Linked DNA regions of Homo sapiens. The protein of the gene in region 1 purifies or fractionates together with the protein of each later gene. This does not show direct contact. Each region holds a gene or a part of one and is shown in the gene's direction. Other genes may lie near its edges.

Region 1 (4,372 bases):
CTCTGGGATTTGAATCCCAGAATCTCACTTACTGATCATTCTCAGGCAGGTGGGCCATTTAAACTTTCCTAGTTTTTGTTCTTTTGGTAAAACATGGTGATACCTCATGGGATCTGAGGGATAAATGGAATAATTTGCTAGAGAAGGCATTGTGATGTATTATAGAGAGTTACTTTTGGGTTTATGATGGAATATACATGTTTAACATATATACAACCTGGAGCACAGGTGAGAGAACACAGAATGTAGTTGTAATAGTTTCCTAGGACTGCAGTAACAAATTACCACAAACTAGGTGACTTAAAACAACAGAAATTTCTTCCTTCATGGTTCTGGAGGTCAGAAGTTTGAGATGAAGGTATCAGCAGGTTTGGTTTTTTTCTTGGGGGCTTAGAGGGAGAGGCTGTTGAATGGCTCATTCCTAACTTCCGAAGGTTACCGGTGATCATTCCTTGGAATTCCTTGCCTTATAGAGGCCTCACTCCAGTCTGCTGTCATCTGCACATGGCATTCTCCCCTGTGAGTCTCTGTCTTCATGTGGTCTCGTTATAGGACCATGGTCCAGTAAGACCTCATCTTATTATAGTTGAGAGGACCCTATTTCAAATATGGTCAGTCTAAGGTTCTGGATGGACATTGATTTGGGGGGGACTTCAACCCGGTACACTAGTTAAGAAGAATTTCCAAATAAACCTAACCATTGTGCAATTTCTTTTTCAAGAGCACTGGAATTAAGTTGCCTTCATCAGTGTTTGCTTCAGAGTTTGAGGAAGATGTTGGATTGTTAAATAAAGCAGCTCCAGTTTCAGGTATTTTTAATTGCTTTATCTTTTCATATGGATAAATGTATTTTGCAAAACATAAAGAAATGATGTAGGATTTTTCTATCCCCAGTAAAGTATTGAAACAATTGAGATATGTCTGGAATTCAGATCAGGGATTATTAGGAAGGGATGAATGTGATCTTTGTATTTTTGTATTCCTACCATCAAATCTTTATATCTTTTGAGTTCCTGTTTGGAGAGGAAAGTGGGGAAACTATTCTTGGTAATCTAGTTAGGGGAATTGTAACCTTCACATAACCTCTTGCAAAGATAGTGGTATTAATTATTCATTACTTGTAGTGTAATTTTGAAAAATAATCTGTTTTTCAGAATTTCTCCCCAGAGCATACAGGTATTTTTATGGAAGTTCATTTTGCCATCTACACATATATTGGGGGAAATTTTTTATTTTTAATTTGTAGTACCAACACTGTATTTCAGAACAAACACAAAAGTCTACAGAAGTGGTGTTGGTATTTTCTCCCAAGTTGCCTTAATTATTAACTAACACCTGTCCTGTGGCATTCATTAATTAATTTATTGTACAGATTTTTGAGTTGCCACTGTCTGTGTGGCAGGGCCTTGGGTTAAAACAGAATAAAGCATAGTCTCTGACCCAAGAATTTACCTCATTTGGGAAAAATAAACAATAAATGATAAATTACAGTATAGATGGATATTAATAGTGGGGTGAGTAGCACCAAACCCAGCATCACAGGGTTGGGCAAGGCTTTCTAAAGAAGGTGATATCTAGTTTGTTTCTTAAGTAAAAGTTAGGTAGGTGGAAGAAGGAGGGGGAGGGGTGGGGACCAGAGGATGTTCCAGACAGAGGACTGTATGTCCTAAGGCAAGAGAACGTGAATATAGGTAACTATACACATTTTAGCCTGCCCAGAAGGAAGGGTATGGATTAAAAAGAAATGAGGCTGGAGGGTTAAGTAATGGCCATGTAGCAGAGGGTGTTGGAGGCCATGTCAGATGATAAATTTGGAGTTGAAAGTTTTTCATGAACTTGAGTTTTTTGTTTTCATTTTCTGCTCCTTGTGGAGCAGGGCTAAGTCCTAAGCAGTGTGCCCAGAGTCAGCCTAGTATATTTATAGATGGAAGAACATATCTGAAGAAACAGGTAGGTATTTATTAAAATCGCAAAGTCAGAAAATACTGAAAGTATAACAGTCTAAAAATTGTTCGAGTTATTTTTAACAGGTGAATTTAAAGGCCAGTTTCTTCTTGCAGACAAAAGCTTTGAATTATGCTAGACAAAGTTAAACATTATAGATGTTTAATGGAACATTATTTTCACCAGTGGATATTAAAAGGAGAAGCATCATTTCTTTTTTCATTTTTTTTTTTAAATTATACTTTAAGTCCTGGGATATATATGCAGAATGTGCAGGTTTGTTATGTAGGTATACACGTCATGGTGGTTTGCTGCACCCATCAACCCATCATCTACATTAGGCATTTCTCCTAATGCTATCCCTCCCCTAGGCCCCCATCCCCCAACAGGCCCCAGTGTGTGATGTTCCCCTCCCTGTGTCCATATGTTCTCATTGTTCAACTCCCACTTATGAGTGAGAACATGCGGTGTTTGGTTTTCTGTTCCTGTGTTAGTTTGCTGAGAGTGATGGTTTCCAGCTTCATCCATGTCCCTGCAGAGGACATGAACGTGTCCTTTTTTATGGCTGCATAGTATTCCATGGTGTATATGTGCCACATTTTCTTTATCCAGTCTGTCATTGATGGGCATTTAAGTTGGTTCCAAGTCTTTGCTATTGTGAACAGTGCTACAATAAACCTACGTGTGCATGTGTCTTTATAGTAGAATGATTTATTATCCTTTGGGTATGTACCCAGTAATGGGATTGCTGGGTCAAATGGTATTTCTGGTTCTAGATCCTTGAGGAATCGCCACACTGTCTTCCACAATGGTTGAACTAATTTACACTCCCAACAACAACATAAAAGCGTTCCTATTTCTCCACATCCTCTCCAGAATCTGTTGTTTCCTGACTTTTTAATGATTGCCATTCTAACTGGCGTGAGATAGTTTCTCATTGTGGTTTTAATTTGCATTTCTATAATGACCAGTGATGATGAGCTTTTTTTCATGTTTGTTGGCTGCATAAATGTCTTCATTTGAGAAATATCTGTTCCTATCTTTTGCCCACTTTTCAATGGGGTTGTTTGTTTTTTTCTTGTAAATTTAAGTTCTTTGTAGATTCTGGATATTAGCCCTTTGTCAGATGGATTGATTGCAAAAATTTTCTCCCATTGTGTGGGTTGCCTGTTGACTCTGATGATAGTTTCTTTTGCTCTGCAGAAGCTCTTTAATTTAATTAGATCCCATTTGTCAATTTTGGCTTTTGTTGACATTGCTTTTGATGTTTTAGTCAAGAAGTCTTTGCCCATGCCTATATCCTGAATGGTATTGCTTAGGTTTTCTTCTAGAGTTTTTATGGTTTTAGGTCTTACGTTGAAGTCTTTAATCCATCTTGAGTTAATTTTTGTATAAGGTGTAAAGAAGGGGTCCAATTTCAGTTTTCTGCATATGGCTAGCCAGTTTTCCCAATGCCATTTATTAAATACGGAATCCTTTCCCCATTGCTTGTTTTTGTTAGGATTGTCAAAGATCAGATGGCTGTAGATGTGTGGTGTTATTTCTGAGGCCTCTGTTTTGTTCCATTGGTCTATATATCTGTTTTGGTACCAGTACCATGCTGTTTTGATTACTGTAGCCATGTAGTATAGTTTGAAGTCAGGTAGTGTGATGCCTCCAGCTTTGTTCTTTCTGCTTAGGATTATCTTGTAAATTACTTTGGGCAGTATGGCCATTTTTATGATATTGATTCTTCCTATCCATGAGCATGGAATGTTTTTCCATTTGTTTGTGTCCCCTCTGATTTCTTTGAGCAGTGGTTTGTAGTTCTCCTTGAAGAGGTCCTTCACATCCCTTGTAAGTTGGATTCCTAGGTATTTTATTCTCTTTGTAGCAATTGTGAATGGGAGTTCCCTCACAATTTGGCTCTCTGTTTGTCTATTATTGGTATATAGGAATGCTTGTGATTTTTGCACATTGATTTTGTATCCTGAGACTTTGCTGAAGTTGCTTATCAGCTTAAGGAGATTTTGGGCTGAGATGATGGGGTTTTCTAAATAGACAGTGATGTTAATCTGCAAACAGAGACAATTTGACTTCCTCTCTTCCTATTGGAATACGCTTTATTTCTTTCTCTTGCCTGATTGCCCTGGCCAGAACTTCCAATACTGTGTTGAATAGGATTGGTGAGAGAGGGCATCCTTGTCTTGTGCCGGTTTTCAAAGGGAATGCTTCCAGCTTTTGCCCATTCAGTATGATATTGGCTGAGGGTTTGTCATAAATAGCTCTTATTATTTTGAGATATGTTCCATCAATACCTAGTTTATTGAGAGTTTTTAGCATGAAGGGGTGTTGAATTTTATCAAAGGCCTTTTCTGCATCTATTGAGATAATCATGTGGTTTTTGTCATTGGTTCTGTTTATGTAATGGATTACGTTGAACCAGCCT
Region 2 (3,936 bases), on another chromosome or scaffold:
GGCCGAAGTGGGAGGATCACCTGAGCCCAGAAGGTTGAAGCTGCAGGGAACCACGATCGTGCCACTGTACTCAACCCTGGGCGACAGAGTGAGACTCTAACAAAATAAAAATAAAAATACCACATATAGTCTGGGCGCAGTGGATCATGCCCATAATCCCAGCACTTTGGGAGGCCAAGGTGGGAGGAAGGAATGCTTGAGCCCTGAAGTTCAAGACCAGCCTGGGCAACATAGGGATCTCCATCTCTACAAAAAATATAAAAATTAGGTGTGATTGTGCACACCTGTAGCCCTAGCTGCTCAGGAGGCTCAGGTGGGAGGATTGCTTGAACCAAGGATGTCAAGACCACAGTGAACCATGATGGCACCACTGCACTCTAGCCTGGGTGACAGAGTGAAACCTTGTATCCAAAAAATAAAAAATTAATTAATTTAAAATCCATATACAGATGCTCCTCACCGTATGGTGGGGTTACGTCCAGATAAACCTGTTGTAAATTAATGATCTCATAAGTCAGAAGTTCATTTGATACTTCATTTGATATCATAGGATACTTCTCTTTGAAAACTGAAGAGCATTCCGAGTGTGTACCACTTTGGCGCAATTATAAAGTCAAAAAAAAATCTTCGGTTAAATCATCAAGTCATGGACTGGCTGAGTAGCCCTGAAAGCTTTCATGAATTTAGAAATCCATGGCCCGGCACGGTGGCTCACACCTGTAATCCCAGCACTTTGGGAGGCCGAGGCGGGCGGATCACGAGGTCAGGAGATCGAGACCATCCCGGCTAAAACGGTGAAACCCTGTCTCTACTAAAAATACAAAAAATTAGCCGGGCGTAGTGGCGGGCGCCTGTAGTCCCAGCTACTTGGGAGGCTGAGGCAGGAGAATGGCGTGAACCCGGGAGGCGGAGCTTGCAGTGAGCCGAGATCCCGCCACTGCACTCCAGCCTGGGCGACAGAGCGAGACTCCGTCTCAAAAAAAAAAAAAAAACAACAAAAAAAAAAAAACTAGCTGGGTGTGGTGGCACATGCCTGTTATCCCAGTTACTTGGGAGACTGAGGCAGGAGAATTGCTTGAACCTGGGAGGCGGAGACTGCAGTGAGTCAAGATTGCACCACTGCATTCCAGCCTGGGCGACAGAGTGAGACTCCATCTCAAAAAAAAAAAAAAAAAAAACGGCTGGGCATGGTGCCTCACACCTGTAATTTCAGCACTTTGGGAGGCTAAGGCGGGTGGATCACCTGAGGTTAGGAATTCGAAACCAGCCTGGGCGACAGTGAGACTCTGTCTCAAAAAAAAAAAGAATTTAGAAATCTAAAACTAACTGATTTGCCAATGAAATTATATAGTCTGTCATTAAGTTTATTACTGGTAAATTTATAAGTATATTTGTAAGTGTTAACCTAAAATTTACTAGTTAAACCAACGTTTTAGAAGTTTATTGTGGCATAATTTACATACAATAAAATTCTATTGTTTTAAGTATCCCGTTCAATGAGTTTTTGGCAAATGTATATTGTAGTCCCATGACACTCATACAGTTCTCTTACCCTGAAAGTTCCCTCGTGCATCTTTATGGTCAGTTGCCTGCCCCCACCCTTTTCTGGGACAACCATTGCTCTTGTTTCTGTCACTCTTATTTTGCATTTTCTAGAAATTCATATAAATGGAAATACACAGTATGTAGGCTTTGGTGTATGACTTCTCTTAATTAGCATGTTATTTTGGATTTCTCCATTTTGTTGGGTGTATCAGTAGTTCCTTTTTATTGGCAAGTACTATTTCATTGCACAGGTATACTGTTGACCCTTGAATATTGCAGGGATTAGGGATGCTGAACCCCTAACATGGTTGAAAATCCATGTATGTATGACTTGACTCTCCCAAAACTTAACTACTCCTGCTTTTGGCTGGAAGCTATACCAATAACAAACAGTTGATAAACACATATTTTGTATGTTATATGTATTATATACTGTACTCTTTCATAAAGTAAGCTAGAGAAAAAATGTTATTAAGAAAATTATAAGGAAGAGAAAATCTATCTACTCTTCATTAAGTGGAAGTGGGTTATCATAAAGGTCTTCATGGTGAATAAGCTAAGGAAGACGAGGAAGAGGGGTTAATCTTGCTGTCTCATGGGTGGCAGAGGAGGAAGATGTGGAAGGCGAGGCAGGAGAGGCAAGCATACTCTGGAACTTTACAGAAATACATTGTAATTTCTGACTTTTTTGCCCTTTCACTTCTCTAAAAATGTTTCTGTAGGGTACCAATCCTCTTCCACAGTTTTTAGTTTCAGTGCCCACGTCATAAAAGGGTCTATGTCATAAAAGACGTCAAAAGCATCTTGAATAATCAGAAACCTTCTGCCAAATTGTCTAATGTCACCTTGTTTTCTGACACTGCTGCTTCTACATCATCTTCCTCATCACCCGGCACTGCTTCAGAAGCACTCACCTCCATCAAGTCGTCTTCTGTTAATTCCTCTGGCATAGTGTCTGTTAGCTCTTGATTTCTCCGTGATCCATATCTTGAAACCCTTCACCCCTCACTTTTGGCCATATCCACAGTCTCTTTCATGATTTCTTGTTTGGCTCTGTCGTAAATCCTGTACTGTCATGCAAAACCTCTGGACATGGTTTTCTCCAGCAGGAATTTATAGCTGCAGGCATGAGGCTTTCACAGCTTTTTCCATAATAATGACAGTGTCTTCAATGGCATGGTCCTTCCAGACTTTTATGATGTTCTTTCCATCGAGTTCTCTTCCATAGCATTGACACTATTTTCCATAGAGTAGTGTGTGTAATGAACCTTAAAGGTCTTTATGACTACCTGTTCTGGAGGCTGAATTAGAGAGTGGGTGCAAGGAGACCACTTTGTTGCCTTTCGGTATTGAACTCATGGGGTTCTTGGGTGGCTGGGACATTGCTCAACATCAAAAGAGCTTTAAAAGGCATTCCTTACTGGCAAGATACTTCCTGACTTCAGGGAAAAAGCATCAATGGAATCAATCCAGAAAAAGAGCTCTCCTTGTGCAAGCCTTCTTGTACATCCAGAAGACAGGCCACTGGTGTTTACCTTTTCCCTTCAAGGATCGGGGTTAGCAGCTTTATAGATAACGGCAGTCCTGATCATAAACCTGACTGCATTTGCACAAAACAGTAAAGATAGCCTATCCTTTCCTGCATTAAATCCTGGTGTTTGCTTCTCTTCTTTACTAATAATTGCCCTTTGTGACATTTTTTTCCAGAACAGGACGTTTTTCATCTGCACAAAAAACCTGTTCAGGCAGATATTATTTCTCCTCAGTGATTTTCTTAATGGCATCTGGGAACTTGTCTGCTGCCCTTTGGTGAGCAGAAGCTGCTTCTCCTGTTACCCTGACATTTTTAAAGCCACCTCTTTCTAACATTATCGAAGCATCCTTTGCTGGCGTTAAGTTCTCCAGCTTTAGATCCTTCATTTTCCTTTTGCTGTAAGTTGTCATATAATGACTTAATTTTTTTCTCCATCATATTAGACTCTATAGATGTGTCTTTCTTAGAACAATCCTGCACCCACATAAAAGCTGCATTTCCAATTTGAGATTGTCAAGAAAAGAATCACAAGATCTATAAATTTGGAGAGGAAACTTTATTTCTTAGAAAGGGTTGCAGTCTGCAGGGTGGCCATTCTGACAGGCTGGAAAGTATAGCCTTCAGCAGAGACCAAAAGCAGGCACTCTGAAGGAGGAAAGGATGAGACAGGAATTTATGCTGAATGCGTTGGCCAAGTATACTTATTTAACAGGTTATAGGAGGAGCTCTGAATATAAGAGGGGTCCTAATGCTTGTATACCGAGTAAATGTACAACCCCTGGTCGCTTTGGGGTGGAGACTTAACATTTAAAATACCTGACAATTAGATCCTGTATGTTACAAGATGAAATAGGGAC

The links.
Region 2: the proteins of LTV1 (region 1) and PNO1 purify together in Homo sapiens (affinity purification with mass spectrometry; one large-scale study listed by BioGRID and IntAct). This does not show direct contact.

Annotation. Positions count from the first base shown.
Region 1 is NC_000006.12:143,849,410-143,853,781, forward strand, and holds part of LTV1 (protein LTV1 homolog), read left to right. Parts: intron 1-721; coding exon 722-809; intron 810-4,372. UniProt on the Homo sapiens protein: Essential for ribosome biogenesis.
Region 2 is NC_000002.12:68,164,388-68,168,323, forward strand, and holds part of PNO1 (RNA-binding protein PNO1), read left to right. Parts: intron 1-550; coding exon of another isoform or gene 551-572; exon of another isoform or gene 573-1,487; intron 1,488-3,936. UniProt on the Homo sapiens protein: Part of the small subunit (SSU) processome, first precursor of the small eukaryotic ribosomal subunit.